2 separate regions of the Homo sapiens genome follow, and region 1 is linked to region 2. Evidence: fine-mapped expression QTL. Tissue or cell type: unexposed skin. Region 2 holds a variant in brackets; the other region holds the start of a gene. All regions are shown on one strand. Distances are between the middles of the regions. Region 1 holds the start of NUP210 (nucleoporin 210). Region 2 overlaps NUP210 (nucleoporin 210).

Region 1 (8,591 bases), 33 kb before region 2:
GTAGGGCCCAGGCTAGTGGGGACTCAGCTTGGGGGTGTCTGAAAACACAAATGTCTACTCCAGAGGTCAAAGGGCAACATTTAAATTCAGGGAGAAAAGGAGAAATGGGGAAGGAAGCCTATAGATTGAAAGAGCCTTAAAAGACATTTCAATCAATTGCAATGTGTGAACTTTACTTATATCCTGATTCTGAAAGTATAAACTGTAAAAAGGTATTATGAATGTATGAGACAGTTGGAAATTTGAACTCTAATAATATTTTATGACCATAAGATTACTGTTAACTTTTTTATGTGTGATAATAGTATTGTGGTTATGTCTATAAAAGGGTCCTTATCTCTTAGCGATACAAACTGAAATACAGACGAAATGACAGGATATCTTGGATTTGTTTCAAAATGAGATAGGGTGGGGCCTGTGGTGACTGCAGAAGCAGCAGAATTGGCTGTGGATTGTGGCCACAGAACTGGACAGTCATGGGGCTTCATTATACCACTGTCTACTCTATGACTCTTTAAGTTTCCCCACTGCAGAATGATTCTTTAAAATTACTGTTTGGGCTGGGCACAGTGGCTCATGGCTGTAATCCCAGCACTTTGGGAGGCCAAGGGGCACAGATCCTTTGAGTCCAGGAGTTCGAGACCAGCCAGGGCAACATGGCGAAACCCTGTCTCTACAAACAAAACAAAACAAAACAAAAAGCAAAAATTAGCTGGATGTGGTGGCACACACCTATAATCCCAGTTACTCAGGAGGTTGAGATGGGAGGATGGCTGGAGCCCAGGAGGTAGAGGCTGTGGTGAGCTGAGATTGCACCACTGCACTCCAGCCTGGGTGACAGAGTGAGAGACCCTGTCTCAAAAATAAATAAATAAATGAAATACAAATAAAAATTACTGTTGTCACAAAAAGATGGTGGGTAGGCTCTAAAAGGACAACGTCCCCCTAGGAAAAAGTTAATTGCCTTGAAAAATCTCTCCATACTTGTATGCCCAAGGAGAAAGGTCAAGATTAGTGTGGTTTGTCCTTCACACTGTCTTGTGTTTGGTTATCTTCCCACTGAAGGCCCTGAGAGCAGGCCTTGGGCTCTCAGCCTTTAGCAAGAAATAGTATCCTGCGGTAATTTGAAGGCATTCTTTTGTTTCGCTGTATTTATTTTATGGCTACTTCTATTATATTTTGCAAACTGATAATGGCTTTTTATTAACAGAAGAGACAAAGTTTGCTTCTTAAGTAAATATATGTAAACACTTTGATTTAAAGACAGGAAATAACAGCACAAGTGGCACTCAGATAGATATTATTTTTTAAAATGTTTTAGGGTGGTAGAAAGTAACAGAAGTTTGGGAGACCCTGATGTGGGTCAGGAGACATTTTCCTATCTGGTTTTAGTTATCAGGTGGGTAACCGGCTCACTCAAATCTGTGGTCTCTTCCAGCCCAGAGGGTCTCTGTGCCAGGACAGAAGGCTGTGCTCAGGCCATTGTCCATGGCTGGCTCCCTGCATCTCAGATAAACACTGACACCCAAAGAAGGGGCCCAATGCCAGGGAGTGGAAACAGCCCACAGAGAAGGTGGGGGTGGCCCCTACACATGGACCCCTGGCTTGGCCCCAAATACCATCTCATACCAGGTTTGTAGGCAAGTGAAATGGGGTCTGGGGGCAAGTTTAAGGACAACGTAAAGGGATAAAATCTCAGATGGAAAATGTTTTACCCATCATTTTGTTGCCTTTTTTTTTTTGAGATGGAGTTTCTTGTTGCACATGCTGTAGTGCAGTGGCTTGATCCCAGCTCACTGCAACCTCCACCTCCCAGGTTCAAGTGATTCTCCTGCCTCAGCCTCCCCAGTAGCTGGGATTACAGATGCATGCCACCATGTCTGGCGACTTTTTGTATTTTTAGTAGAGATAGGGTTTTGCCATGTTGGCCAGGCTGGTCTCAAACTCCTGACCTCAGGTGATCTGCCCACCTTGGCCTCCCAAAGTGCTGGGATTACAGGTGACAGCCACCGCACCCGGCCCATTTTGTTGTCTTCCATGGATTGTTTTCTGCTGGGAAAATTTCCTGATTGCCTTAAATCACCTGAAACGTAGTTGTTTAGCAAGCTGTGTCCACTCAGATGTGTTTTGCTGGGCCTGTTTGTATGATTCTTTTTTTGAGATAATTGTAGATTACATGCAGTTGTAACAAATAACAAGAGAGATGCTATAATATGTGCCCTTTACCCCGTTTCCACTAGTAGACATCTTGCAAAACTATGGGATAATATCACAACCAGGAAATGGACATTGATACAGTCAAGCCACCAAGCACTTCCATCCCAGGGACTCCTCATGTTGACCTTTTATAGCCACATCACTTCCTATGCCACGCCGCCCCTGACCCCACAATCACTCACCTGCTCTATACTTCTATAATTTTGCCAACTCAATAATCTTGTATAAAAGCAAGTTTACAGTATGTAACCTTTTGTGCTTTTGTAGTGTTTGTTTTCCAGTCCGTATAATTCCCTGGAGCTTCATCCAAGATGGATGTATTAGCAGTTCATTTCTTTTTTTGCTGAATAATATTCCATGGCATAGATGTGCCACAGTATTTAATCATCACCCATGAAGGACCTCTGTGCTGTTTCCAGTTTGGGCCTATTTGATAAAGCTGCTATGAATGTTTTATGTACAGGTGATTGTGGGAACATCACTTTTCATTTCTCTAGGATATATGTCCAAGAGTGAGATTTACCTGCCTCGCAAGACATATGTATATGTATGTATATGTGCCATATTTCATATATACATATGTGTGTGCATGTATGTGTATGTGTGTGCATGTGTGCCATGTTTTATATATATATATGCTTGTTTATGCATAAAATTTCTCTGGATGTATACTCAAGTGGGAAACACTCATTGCCTGTAGGGAAGGGTATTGGGTGATGGGGAGGGAGAGGAATCACTTTCACTTGGAACCCTTTTGAGCCTAAGTTTCAACCATCTGTCTGGATTACCTGTTGGAAAACAAATCAATCTTGTGCAACCCAGAAGACACCCACAGACTTCCTCACAAATACCCTCTGAGGCTGCCTTTTCCGCGCAAGTCTGTTTTTTGTTTCTTCAAAGGGAGCCCGTTGGAATTCCCCTCCCAGAGCACCTGGTTCCACACAGGGCCGACCCTCACCCCCTTAGTTCTGGTTATCTCCAGAGATTTCCCCCAACACACACATTCCCTGGTCTAGGGCCCTCAGGCTTCGAGGGTGACCCCAAACACCCCGCATCACCATCCAAAAGCCCCATGATCCCTGAGGGGCAGGCTCAGCCTATGCGGGCCTCGCTGAAGCCCAGTGCGGTGTCTATGCCCAACCCAGGGGCCGCCGCCTCCAAAAAGCCTTCCTAGCCTTACTGACATTTATCCTCTCCTTCCTGGTCACCCAGTGGCATCGTTGTGTGTCTTCCTGGTTACAGTCAGCATCCACTTCCTGCACTCCTCAGACAGCCGGCCAGTGCACCCTCACCCCACCCTTTCCTGACCTCCCGCTAGGCTGGGCCTTCTCTGCAAGGCTAGATTCATATTTTAGCGGCACCAAGCAGTCAGGTGCCTGCTGACGCATGCCTTCATGCAATTCACGACAGACAGCTAAAAGCCACAGAGCACAGCGCGGAATCTAAGGCCTTCCATTGGTGTGCAGGTGGATTCCGCGGTGCTAAACTTTCTTTTGTGGGTGTGGGGGCCGTGGAGGGGGTTGTGCTCTGGCAGCGTTGGCGCCCTAAATGACCTATAGGTAACCTCTAATGGCTTCCGCAGGGGGTGCAGTGCGGAGGACAAGAGCTTGGGGCTCTCTGGCTGAGTGATCTGGGGGCCATTCAACCGGTTTTTTCCTGGAGAAATGGGAATCTTAAGGCCTCTCTGGAAAGGGTGTGAGGGGGTCGAGGGGGAGCGGGCCCCGGGCCTTCAGCGCTTCAGCAGGTGGCTTCCCTTTGCGAGCCCGGGGTCCCTCTTCTGGGAAGCATGGGCTGGGACAAGGCAGGCGCCGGTTTTCTGCATCCCAAATGTCCTGGGGCATGTGTCCCTTCCTTGCTGACCGTGGGTCCGGGCCAGAGCGCAAGGTCCAAAGCCGGCGGCTTGGCTCCACCGCCAGGGGCAAATACCAGGGCGGGATGCGTGCTGCGGGGCGCCCCGGGGGCTCCCCCTTGGGACTTCTAGGGTCCAGGGGTCCCCGCGGGCGCGCCCCAAGCCTTCTCCCTCAGCTCCGGGGGCCCGGGCGCGCGCCCATCCCCCAGCCCCGCGTCCCTGCGCGAGGGCCGGGCTGGGGGTGGGGTCGCCGCGAGCTCGGCCCCCAGAGTTCCCGCGCTCAGGCCCAGGAAGCGGCGGCCGCCGACGGCCCTCGCCCCGCCCCCGCGCTCATCACCTGCTGGCCTGGCGCGCGCGCGGGCGGGAGCGGAGGGCAACGGGGCGGCGCGGGCGGCCGGGCGCAGGGTCGCGGGAGGTGACGCGCGGCGAGGATGGCGGCGCGGGGCCGGGGGCTGCTGCTGCTGACGCTGTCGGTGCTGTTGGCGGCGGGCCCCTCCGCCGCTGCGGCCAAGCTCAACATCCCCAAAGTGCTGCTGCCCTTCACGCGGGCCACGCGCGTTAACTTCACGCTGGAGGCCTCGGAGGGCTGCTACCGCTGGTGAGGCGCGCGGCCGGGCCGGGCGGGCGCCGTGGGCCGGGCTGGGCCTTCGCGCTGAGAGGCTGGGCGGGCGCCGGGAGGCCGGCAGAGCCGGCAGGTGCGCGGCGCGCTCTCGCTGGGCGCTAGGCTGCAGCACTCGGAGCGGCGGGTGCGCGTGGGTCGCCACCACTGCTCATGTCATGGCGCCGTCCGGGCCTCCGCGCCGCTGAGGCGCGAGCAGAGCGGGCGCAGCCTGGCGGCCGTGACCCGCGTGTTCTGGGTTGTGCGGGAGGAGGGGTGGCCTGGGGAGCGGCGTCTGGGACCGCAGGGCCCAAGCCGGCCGGGCCCGAGCCGGCCTGACCCGGGAGGGGGCGCCGGGGCAGCTGGGCCGCACTTCCCTTGAGTCTGGGACCCCAGCTCGGGTTTGTCTGTGACCGCCCTCGCCCTGGCGTGGGAAGTGAGTCTGTGAAACGAAGCGCAGCGCCTAGCGTCGCGGGGAGGAACGGAGACCCTGGAGGAAAGGAGTTTTGGAGGGAAGCCCAGGGGCCGCTTTACAGAGGCGAAGTGAGACGAGGCAGGCCGGCGCTTCCCCTCAGGCTGCCTCGGCGCGGGTCCTGATGCTCAGGGCATTTCCATCACCCTCCCTCTCGGGTTGGGAGTTCTCCAAGGGGTCGGATGCGGAGTGTGACCCTGTGGAACCACAGGGACCCATGAAACCAGAGACCGACACTGACAGGGCGGTGCAGTCCAGCCCTTCCATTTTGCAGACCAGGGGAAATGGAGCTCCTGCCCCTGGCAAGGCTGCGTGGGCACGACTGAGCGCCCTTAGCTTCCCAGCCCAGCCGTCCTAGGGGTGAAAAGATGGGCTTCCGCCCTTCCCACCCCCAGGATGCTCAGTAGTTGCTCCCTTTATTTCTGTTTCAAGACTGGGTCAAGGTTGAGGCAGAACGGGGTGTGACCACGTGACAGCCATGTGTGTAAGCCTGGACATGTGTGTGTCAAGCCTGTTTGAGTATTAGTCTGTGCGTGTATGTAAGTGTGATGCCCGAAGCTCAGACCAGCCAGCTTTCTCTGTTGCTTGCACTATTTGCCCTATTTCTTTCTTTCTTTTTTTTTTTTTTTTTTTTTTTTTGAGACGGAGTTTTGCTTTGTCGTCCATGCTGACGTGCAGTGGTGCGATTTCGGCTCACTGCAACCTCCACCTCCCGGGTTCAAGCGATTCTCCCGCCTCGTAGCTGGGATTACAGGTGCAGGCCACCTGGCTAATTTTGTTTGTTTGTTTGTTTGTTTTTAGAGTGCACTCCAGCCCTTGTTGCCCAGGCTGGAGTGCAATGGCGCGATCTCTGTCCACTGCAACTTCCGCCTCCCCGGTTCAAGCGATTCTCCTGCCTCAGCCTCCCGAGTAGCTGGGATTACAGGCGCCCGCCACAACACCCAGCTAGTTTTTTGCATTTTAGTAGAGACGGGGTTTCACTATGTTGGCCAGGCTGGTCTCAAACTCTGGATTCACTGTGTTGGCCAGGCTGGTCTTGAACTCCTCAAGACCAAGGAGAACTCCTCAAGCGATCCACCTGCCTCAGCTTCCCAAAATGCTGAGATTACAGGCGTGAGCCACCATGCCTGGCTTGTCTGGCCAATTTTTGTATTTTTAGTAAAGATGGGGTTTCACTATGTTGGTCAGGCTGGTCTCGAACTCCTGACCTCAAGTGATCCCGCCGCCTCTGCCTCCCAAAGTGCTGGGATTACAGGCGTGAGCCACTGCACCCGGCCTGCCCTATTTCTTTTTTGAAGGTCTCCTTCCTGAAATCAAGACGTACTAGGTCAGCCCATTGCATTTTGGTTTTAGTGCTTTATGCACCTGGAGGCTCCTATTTCTGGCCTGATGCCAGAGGCTGAACTTGGGCATTAGGTTTTCTGTATCCCAGTCTAAGGCCTAGTCTTGTGTGGGAAAATCAGCTGTTAGTCAATACTGTGGCGGGGATACATGCTCATTCTCTTGTTGAAGCTGTCTGTCCTCTCAGTATGTGGGCAAGAAAGAGGAAACTGGTTATTAAAAACAGCTGGCTTCAAGTGAATCCCTTTGGATATATTTGTGTGTTACTTTCTCTGAGATTCTATAGCTGTACTTTTTTCTTTTTCTAAACTAACAACACTTTTTTCCCCCCCAACATCATTTTCTTTTCTGAGAGGAGCTGAAGGGTGTTGGTGGATTTTAATTTACTTGGTAGGAAAAAGGGAAAAAACATTCTTAATCTCTGATGCATCAGAGAAGTGCTAAGTACCTTATAACGTGTTTGGCGTTGATCTGTAGTTTGTATTGCAGATGTGTGACTGCAGATGTGTGACTGCTATTCAAAGTGTCTTCTCAGAGGTGTTTGGAAATTGTGATTCCCCCTTAACTTGACAGGAAGACATTCTGTCAATCAAGCATTGAGAATATTTTCTTTATTTTTAGTATTGCTGTTCCTAGTGTAGTCGTCTATTGCTGCAGTTTTGAAGAATCTGCTCTGGAGATTTTAAGAGCTGGCCTATAGACATATATCCACAGTCCTCTAAACCTGGGAGGAACATTACCTCTTCATCCAGAAAGTTCATTGTTAAGTCTCTCAGACGAAAAAGAAAATGAGAATTCTGCCAGACCCTGTGGGAACATTTGCACATCCATTGAATTTGCAGCTGAGCTCTAAGTTTACAGAAATCACTGTGTGTGCCTGAGCCAACAGCTTCATGTTTACTTTTCCTATTTTTTTTATTTTATAACATCAAAATTGGACAGTTTTCGGGCCAGGGGAACCTTAGAGGTCACCTAGTTTAAACAGCCTGTGTTTCATATAGGAAAACCTGAGCTCCAGAAGGGGAAGTGATCTCTGGGAAGTCTTGTAGCGATGGACACTGAGTTGGAGCAGGAGCTGCTGGGACCCCTCCCTGTCCCACGCCATTAGACCTGGGGACTGGCAGCCTCTGGCTAATTTGCCAGGCTCTAATTCTCTCCAACTGCACCCAGCCAGCACTGGTTTTGTGACAAGTTCCTGATTCCTTCTAGATATTTTGCATTATTGAAAGTGTTCCATAAAGTATATTACATTTGCTCCTTTTAAAGGTATATACAAAACGACCTCATATCAAAAACTGGGAGAACAGACGAAAAAGAAATCATGCCATAATCTTCCAGCTGTAATACAATCACAGGCAGCATTTTGGTTTCTTTTCGGTCACTTATGTTTCCTCTCCTAGCTCCTTTCTTACATTGCCTTGAACCTGGTTATTTGGGCACCTCGGGAACCTCCTCCCCTGCCAACACTGGCTAGCACTGAAGCCCAAGCACTGCTCTGTTGCTTCTTCCTGAGGGCTCCGTGTCTGAGCACCTTTCTGCTGGGTTGAAGTTGCCTCCTCATTGATTCTTTCCCTGTCATGGAGTCCCAGGGTATTCTGGGTGCTCCAGCAAGGGGGCGCTGTCTTGGAGAAAGTGAGTGGCTCAGATTGGTTTCCCAGGGGTGGAGCCTGAGGCAGGATTCTGCTGCCCTAGTTTACAGAGAAAGTGCTCTGTTGGGCAGCTGGATAGGGAAGGGAGGCTGCCTGCAGGTTGTCCTGCCTTCAGGCGAAGAGACCAAGCTTTGAGCTTTTGTACCCACTGTCAGGCAGCCATTGGTTCCCCTGGGGAAGGGGATGTTGTGCGACCTCCCGGGCCTCTGGCGGAGACACTCTGTTTTGAATTACGACCTGCAGCTCCCCTGGCTGAGGTGGGGAGGGGATGTGGACCTGCCTGGTGAACAACATCCAGACACAGCATGCACAGTGACTGCCATACCAAGCTGTTCACAGACTTCTCCTTTCCTGCCCCTGACAGTCTCTCCTGGGCACCTTGGAGCCATCTAACACGTGTGCCAGGCCTGGTCCTGCACCAGGGTACACCCTCTCTTATGTGGTCTGGGGCACTTCTCAGTCACA
Region 2 (8,591 bases):
CTACCCCACGACCTCAGGAGTCTCACAGTCAAGGTGAAGAGACAAGAGTCATGTGACACTAGACAGTTTGGGTAATGCCCCTCCACCCTGGGTCCCCTCCCCTGCACAGGGAGGGAGAGGAGTTTACTCCCAGGAAGTGGTGAGCAGGAATGAATGGCCCAGGTTTCCGAGCAGACTCCTAAATTGTAAACCGCTCACAGACGTGCGGGGCAGCAGTGTTATGCACTGCACTGAGCTGGTCCTGCAGTCAAGGGCAGGGAGTCACAGCAGGAAGAGCACAAGCTTTCATCGGACAGCCCTAGGTTCAAATTCTGGCCTCGCCCCCTGGTGGTCACATGACCATGAGTAAGTGTCTTCATTCCTTTCAGCCTCAGTTTCCTCTCCTGACATACAGTTTATGACACCTGCCTGGTGGGTGGTGATGTGGAGTGTGGTTCCTGCATGGGGCAGAAGCTCCCATCACGCCTCCCTCCACCCTGGGAAATTAACTCCATATCTGTCTGCCTCTCCCATCTGCTCTTATAGGGAACACCTTCAGCACTCTGGCTGGACTGGTCTTCGAGTGGACGATTGTGAAGGACTCCGAGGCGGACAGGTTCTCAGACTCCCACAATGCGCTGCGGTAAGGGGTGCCTCTGCTAGGCCTGGCCCCTTTGAAGGGAAGGGGAAAGGGGGACACCTGTGAGCTCCTCACCAGCGGGGGGCTTTCATCTGGGTCATTGAGGAGTCTGGGAGACTCCTAGGATGCCCGTAACATTCCGAGTGTCTGATTGAGGAATGGGATCCACTCACACCATTGTGCGGGAGCCTGGCTGCTTCTGCAGCCCCCAGAGAGTGTCCTGTGAGAAGCTGTCAGAGGCTTGGGATGTCCAGCTGGAGAAATGAGACATGCATGGCTGTCTCAGGGCACAGGGAAAGTGTGGGTGGCCCCAGGCTGCACTTCTGGGGGGCCAGTTAAAGGGCAGCCAGGTTTCGGCTGGGGCACAGGCCAGCTGTGCCGGTGGGTCTCAGGTGGAACAGGCTGAGTCGCCCATATGGCGGTATAGTAAGACCAGTTGTGAGGCGGACACCTTAAGCATCTTGACCTGTGTCATCCTCCTGGCAGCCACATGAGCTTGCGCACCACTGTGCTCTCCATCGAGTAGTTGTGGAGGCTGAGACTTGGAGAGGCCGAGCCGCTTGTCTGAGCTCCGGGAGGACAGAGCTGGAGTCTGAACTCAGATCCGTGGATCTGCACTGTCTCGTGGGAGCCACGGGCCCCAGAGCTATTTACTTGTAGTTAGAAAATGAGCAGTTCAGTTCCTAAGATGCATAAGCCTCCTGTCAATGGCTCACTGCACTGCCACATGTGGGACAGGGCAGGAGCAGAGCCACGCGGGTCCTCTGCCGGTGCTGGTGCAGGTCCCAGGTCTGAGCTTGTATTCCCGACTGTGCCGCCTTCCTCCTGATTTGCCATGTGATTTTTAAAAAGCATGGTCCCTTTTTTAAAGTTGTTTTTGAATCTTTTGAGTCTCCTTTTGCAGCAATTTTAGGCCTGTAGAAAATCTGCCAGTTTAGTCCAAAAAGTGGTCTCCCTCATTCACCTGAGAGCCGGCTGCCAGCCTCATGTCCCGTCACCCTGATGATTTTCATGTGCTTTACGACCATCGGGGCATTGTCCTGCACGGCCACCATGCAGTCATGGCACTAGGAAACGAACACTGTTGCCGGCCGTCTTCAGACCTTACTCGAGTTTGGTCATTTGTCCCAGCTTTATCCTTTTCAGTAAAAAGAAGGATCCCAGCCCCAAGTCACCTGCCGCATGTGTCCTGTTTCTCTTAGTCTCTGTCAGCCTGGGACTGTCTCCCGGGCTTTGACTTTGGACACCACAACGCTTGTGAAGAGGACAGTCTAGTTATCTGTAGAGTGGCCCTTGTTTTGGGTTTGTCTGCTGTTCCCTCACGGCCAGGGTCCGAACGTTGTGTCTTTGGCAGGAACATCACAGAAGTGAGACTCCGCTCTTCCACTTGCCTCTGCGCTTTCTCACCCCTATATAATTATAAGTCCTTTGTCAGGGAGTTTACTGTCTGGTCTTTCATTATGCCATTAAAGTCCTGCTCTGGGCTGTAGGGGATGTTGGGGATGTGGTGGTTCCTCTGTCACAGCCTTCTCCAGGGCTCAGCTTACAGCAACTCCAGGCCGACGTCCTCATGTCCTGACGCCTTTGTGAGCCGAGTTGCCCTTGTGGAGACAGCCTGCTGGACCAGCTCTGTGGGTTCTGGTGTTTTGTAAAACAATGACCATGGGCCAGAGAGTCAGAGACCTGGATTCCAGTCCTGGCTTTGTCGCTTCCTGCCTGTGTCCTTAGCCAGGGAACGTTACCCACCTGAGCCTCAGCCTCCTGCCCTGGGAAACAGAGCTGGAGGGAATCCCGTGCCTGCCTCTGAGGGCCACTGTACAGCTCAGTGGGTTGATCCACTCAGGGCCCCTCTCTGGGCCTGGCACACGCTGGATGTTGAGGGGATGCTGAATCCCTGTCCCCTTCTGACAATACCCCATTCCCCACCCCTTGAGCTTCCAGGCAGCTAGCTCTGCACCTGAGCCAAATGCTAACAGAAATCCCAGATGCCAAGGCGGGTTGGAGCTGGATTGTCCTGGATTTGTAATTTGGCGTGTGACACCTAGAGTAACCAGGCGAGGAAATAAATCACAGTGCGGCCCAGCATTGGCAGATTGCTCTTGTGCAGGGGAACAGTGGGCTCGTTTGTAAATGCAGGCTGAAGTGGGAGGCTGCGTGGGAAGGATCCCTGAAGTCCGCCTGCCCAGCAGCCCACACTCCAGGCTACACCACGTCCCCGACATCTCCCCAAGCTGGGATCCAGGGAGAGTGAGACATGGTGCCGTCTGGTGCCCAGGGCTAGGGGACCAGTCATGGAGAATCGTTCCCCAGAGCTGGGCGCTAGGCCGGGGAGGTTGGACAGGAGCAGGCAGCCTCGGGGAGGTGAGGGTGCTGCTGGCCCTGCTGTGACTGGGCTGTGCTCTTGGGCCTGCTGCCTCATCTCCCGGGCCTCACTGTTCCCATGTGGACTCAGCAGCTGGTCTCGCATGTTAGTATTTACGTCACGTGTGCGTGTGGATAAAATGCAGATTCCCAGGCATCTTGGAGACAAAGCCTGGGCCAGGGGCCAAGTATCTGCATTTTTCACAAGGACTTTGGCAGTTCTGATGTAGGAAGCTGCAGGGCCGTGTCTCTAGGCAGCCCCAGCCCTGACTAGGGGGACACCCCTTATTTCAGCATCAGCCCCAGTGGGAGGTACTGATAGGGAATGCTGTGGTAGATTCTGACAAATCTTGTGTTGGGGTTTGATCAACAAACTTTGACAACGTGCTCCTTTTCCAGAATCCTCACTTTCTTGGAGTCTACGTACATCCCTCCTTCTTACATCTCAGAGATGGAGAAGGCTGCCAAGCAAGGGGACACCATCCTGGTGTCTGGGATGAAGACCGGGAGCTCCAAGCTCAAGGCTCGCATCCAGGAGGCTGTCTACAAGGTGGGCCTGGGGCGCTGGGGTGTCAGTGGGCTTCCTGGGGTGGAATCAGGCTGACGGTACCTGCTTATAGGTACCATCACACCTATAGGCACGTTGAATAGTGGAAGTGAGATGCTGTCCCGTGATTTCAGGATGTGGGTTCATATTTTTATGTGTTTGGTTTGGTTTGTTTGAGCCTCAGCTTACAAAGAAAGGTGGTTGAGGCCCCAGAAAGCATCTCTAGGGGTGCATAGCATTTGCTCATTCTTAGTTTCTAGGGAGGTCCAAGAGCAGGAGGTTTCCAGTAACTCACCTGTTTCCAACTGGTGCCCCCACCGTGCTGGTATAGGGACACTCCCAAGCACTTGGGGCTTTGACAAAACCTGGGGCTCCTGGGTGTCTTCTATGCTGTCTCTCCTTGGGCCCCCATTGGAGCCCTGAGACTGGTGGCCCAGGGATCCTATGTGTAGATCACCTCAACCCCCTGCCCCAGCCGATCCCATGTCTTCCTGGCCTCACCAGCATCCCATTCTTAGGGTAGTGGGGGTATGCCAGAGGAAAGGAGAGTGAGGAGTGGGTCTATCCAACGTCCTGGTTCCTTCTCTGTCCCTGTGGACTAATGTCCACCCAACCAGTGCCTCGTTTTGAGCTGCAACCCTGAGATATTTTTGTTTGCCTAGTGTCTGGAGCACAGGCAGGAACACTGTGGTACTTGGCCTGCCATTTAATTTTGTAAAGTGGCAGACGGAGAAATCCTCTTCTGATTCACTCTCTGTAGTGGGTTTGCTGCATCTGGGAGTCCTGGAAAGTTATGGAAACATGGGGACATGCCCTGTTATAGGGGCTAATCCCG[T/C]AGGACTCTGCAGGTAGTACTTAGAGACAGTTTGCTCCTGTGTAGGGCCCAGGCTGGGATGGGGTACAGCCACACTGCTAAGCTGGAAAGGCAGACTTGCTGTCCTGCCCATAGACATTCAGTGGCCCTCCCTGCCTGCGTGCTGGAAAGCAGCCGCCACAGAGCCCTGCCCATGGTGGTGCCCAATACACTTGTCTGTTTTGGACACACTGAAGATATTAACTAGTTGTTAAGTGAGGAAAGCTGTCAGTTGTGACAGCAGGCTTAAAGGAGAATCCAAAGAGTTGCCACAGGACACCAGGCATGCTGAACTGAACTCAGAAAAATGTAGAATGCCCACACCCACAGGAGGGCAGTCAGCTGCGCCTTCACCTGAGGAAATGTTTTTGTGTTTCTGTGGACAAGAATCATTTGCTGTGTTGTCGCTTTTCTACAATGTACACTGCCATCAAACAGGCCAAAGACAATGAAAGGTGCAGGCCTCTGGAGAATCCAGTACCTAAGGGTGCACTAGACAGGGCACCTAGTGATCTTTCTCCCATTGCGAAGTTGCCCACGGGTTTTCCTGAGGAGGCAGGAGGTCACAGGTCGGGGGTGAAAGGCGGGCAGGGGAAGGGGTCAAGGAATAGCAGCCAAGGCTCATCACAGCATATGCCTCTCCTGCTTTTTATGTTGGCCTGGGGCTTCTCAAGTTCCCTGGACCTTGGGCTTTTGTGTGGAGAGAACTTGAGCTCCCGGTGGCCATAGCATCCCTAGAGTTCACCCTGGCTCTCCTCTTTTACTCCAGTTTAATCATGGTTTCACATAGAGATAAACCATGCACAATGGGCAGTCAGTGTGAGGGCTCAGTCTGGGTAATGCCCTTTTTCTGGGTGCCTGCTATACTTATGGAGCTCCCCTGGGACCTCTGGGTTCTGAAAGTGAGGATTTGGGAATGATATCTTGTTTCTTTCCTCTTAACTTCCCTATTCCCATGTTTAAAACATCTCTTTCTCTTGCTCACACCACCACTTCCCCATTCCCTGTCCGCACCTCACTTTGTCTGCCTTTTCTTTATGCCAAGAATGTACGCCCTGCAGAAGTCAGGCTGCTGATTTTGGAAAACATCCTTCTGAACCCGGCCTATGACGTCTACCTGATGGTGGGAACCTCCATTCACTACAAGGTGCAGAAGATCAGGCAAGGGAAAATTACAGGTGTGTCATTGGCTCTGCCATCATGACAGATGCTTCCTTCCTCCTTTTTTTATTGTGGTTACATACATGTAACAAAATTTACCATCTTAACCATTTTTAAGTGCTCCATCAGGTAGCATCAAGTACATTCACACTCTTCTGCAGCCATCACCATCATCCATCCACAGAACTCGTTCATCTTCCCAAACTGAAGCTCTGCATTGTTAAACACTAACTCCCCTTCACCCTCTCCCAGCCCTTGGCACTCATCACTCTATTTCCTGTCTCTGTGAATGTGACTACTCTGGTTACCTCATGTACGTGGAATCATATAGTATTTATTTTTTTGTAACTGGCTTATATCACTTTTTTCCTAGCCTGATGTCTTCAAGTTTCATCCATGTTGTAGCAAGGGTTGGAATTCCCTTCCCTTTTAAGGCTGAATAGTGCTCCATTGTGTGGATGGATAGACCACATTCTGTTTACCCATTCATCTACCCATTCATCCATCAGCAGACACTTGGGTTGCTTCCACTTTTTGGCCATTGTGAGTAATGCTGCTGTGAACATAGTGAGCAAATATCTGAGTCCCTGCTTTCAAATTCTTTGGGGTATATGCCCTTTCAGTGGCAGCAAGTCCAGAGCTGTGGGCTTTGTGTTTAGCTGGGCTTTGCCCCGGTCTGCAACTGACAACTGAACAAACTTGGACAAGCCACTGCCCTTCTCCAGGGCTGTTTCTCATTGGAGGCTTTGAGGCCTTTCTGCCTGGGCTGTGAGGACAAAATGAATCAATAGGAGTGTAGTTGTACTGTGTACTTGTGTTTAGATAGTGACGGTTCTCAATGGAGCGCCAGTCCTCCTAAGGATCATTATCATTTTGTTCAAAGCTGTGTATGTTTAACATCCAGAGCATAGGACCTGAAGGGTCATGGGCATAAGAGCTCTCAGGTCCAGTCCATCCGAGGGCCTCAGTCAGGTGAGTTTGCCAGGTTGGTAGGTTGGTTCCACCTGTGATACAGGGTGTCACTTAAGAGGCAGGCAGATACACACTTCAGCATAAGAGCAACTTGAGTGGTGTCTCCAGTTGATGGGAGGTGCTGCATTGTTTAAAGTCCTGCTCAACTGAGAGCAGTCACCTGGTTGGTCATTCCTGTGTGGCAGAACGCTTTCTCTCAGGAGGACAAAAAAACTGAAGACAGGCGCTCCTGCCTTTGGGCCCAGTTCTTTCTGGCAAGGGGGTCCTAGTTGAAGAGAAGCAAACTCATGTTTCTTGATTCTGGGCAAGCAGCATCTGCCCTTCAGCAGGATGTCAAGTCAACAGGAGGATGGCCTGCAGTAGGATTTGTAGGAAGCCAAGCGTGGGTGTCCTGGTCAGAGCCCGATGTTTACCTGACTTCAGGGAGGCAGATTCTAGGACAGGGACAGTCCAAGATGTGGCTTTCTGAGACTCTGAAAGGGGAGGAGGCTCCAAGATAGAGTTCTGAGGACAGCAGCCTAAGGAAGAATGCAAAGGGGAAGCGTGTTGAAAGGCCAGAGGGCACAAACAGGAGGTCTCAGAAATATAAAATTATCCATGAACACTGATCAAGAAATGGCACTGCGGCCTGAAGGAAGACGCTTGGAGAGCCTAGTCACTGCTGACAGCACCTAACCATGACTGAACATTTCCTCAGTGTTGGGCAGTTGTAAGTGCTTTTCTTTTTAAAGTTACTTTATTTTATTTTTTAGAGACTTGGTCTTGCTATGTTGACCAGTCTGATCTCAAACTGCTGGCCTCAAGCCATCCTCCTGCCTCATTTCTTCTGAGTAGCTGGGACTACAGTTGTGTACCTGGATATAACCCAACAGCTCTATGAGGTAGATTTCATTAATACCCTGTTTCATACATGAGGAAAACTGAGGCATAGAAGACCTGAAGCTCACAAAACTGTTGGACTCCTTGGCCTTAATCACCCCTGTAGGATCAATTGGAATTTCCCTCTGCCGCTTCTCCCCAAAGGAAACCCAGAAAAAAGCTAATTATAACAACAGGGCCGGCCGGGCGTGGTGGCTCACGCCCATAATCCCAGCACTTTGGGAGGCTGAGGCGGGCGGATCACGAGGTCAGGGGTTCGAGACCAGCCTGACCAACATGGTGAAACCCCGCCTCTACTAAAAATACAAAAATTGGCCAGGTGTGGTGGCGCACGCCTGTAATCCCAGCTACTCAAGAGGCTGAGACAGGAGAATCACTTGAACCCAGGAGGTGGAGGTTGCAGTGAGCCGAGATTGCGCCATTGCACTCCAGCCTGGGTGACAGAGCGAGACTGTCTCAAAACAAACAAACAAAAACAGGGCCTTACAGTCTCCCAGGGCAGCGGTGAGGTGGTCCATTTGCATGGGACTCATGGGGCATGAAACTGCCCCAGCTGGGCAAGCAGAGCCCATGTAGTTAAGAGGGGATGGGCTGACTTTAGAAAGAGCTCACTCGGCCAGGCACGGTGGCTCACACCTGTAATCCCAGCATTTTGGGAGGCCGAGGCGGGCGGATCATGAGGTCAGGAAATCGAGACCATCCTGGCTAACATGGTGAAACCCTGTCTCTACTAAAAATACAGAAAAAAATTAGCTGGGCATGGTGGCACACACCTGTAGTCCCAGCTACTCAGGAGGCTGAGGCAGGAGAATTGCTTGAACCCGGGAGGCAGAGGATGTTGCAGTAGCTGAGATCGCACCACTGCACTCCAGCCTGGGCGACAGAGTGAGACTCTGTCTCAAAAAAAAAAAAAAAAAAAAAAAAGAGCTCACTCTAAATTAGCTCAGGTATCACAGCCCAGAGGAACTGCACCTCCCAAGGTACCTAGAAAACTTACGAGCTTGGTCACTGACCTTCCTGCCACAGACATCAAGGAATTGGAGCACATGAAAGATGCCCTGGGACAGGAAAGGAAAGAGGCAGGGCCCACCTCCCTTTCATCATGTCATGAGATGTGAAAGTACTCCAAAAATACACACTCCTGTGCGATTGATGGCACTGGATGCTACTGCAGTAGATTCCAGATGGATGTTTTGGCA

The links. PIP is the estimated chance that this variant, and not a neighbour inherited with it, causes the effect.
Region 1: it holds the start of NUP210, and the variant in region 2 is fine-mapped to the expression of NUP210 in unexposed skin (GTEx, PIP 0.97).

Annotation. Positions count from the first base shown.
Region 1 is chr3:13,416,133-13,424,723 of GRCh38, reverse strand. It overlaps NUP210 (nucleoporin 210), which reads left to right and starts at 4,402. Exons shown (of 40, transcript NM_024923.4): 1 at 4,402-4,664. The coding sequence starts at 4,498. RefSeq lists silencers at 4,168-4,567, 4,618-5,187 and enhancers at 7,980-8,049, 8,110-8,259.
Region 2 is chr3:13,383,242-13,391,832 of GRCh38, reverse strand. It overlaps NUP210 (nucleoporin 210), which reads left to right. Exons shown (of 40, transcript NM_024923.4): 4 at 526-622; 5 at 3,380-3,530; 6 at 5,426-5,558. Among named protein-coding and RNA genes, the nearest start is that of NUP210, 33 kb to the left of the region's middle. RefSeq lists enhancers at 437-995, 2,799-3,299. The variant T/C (reference allele first, on the strand shown) is at 4,363.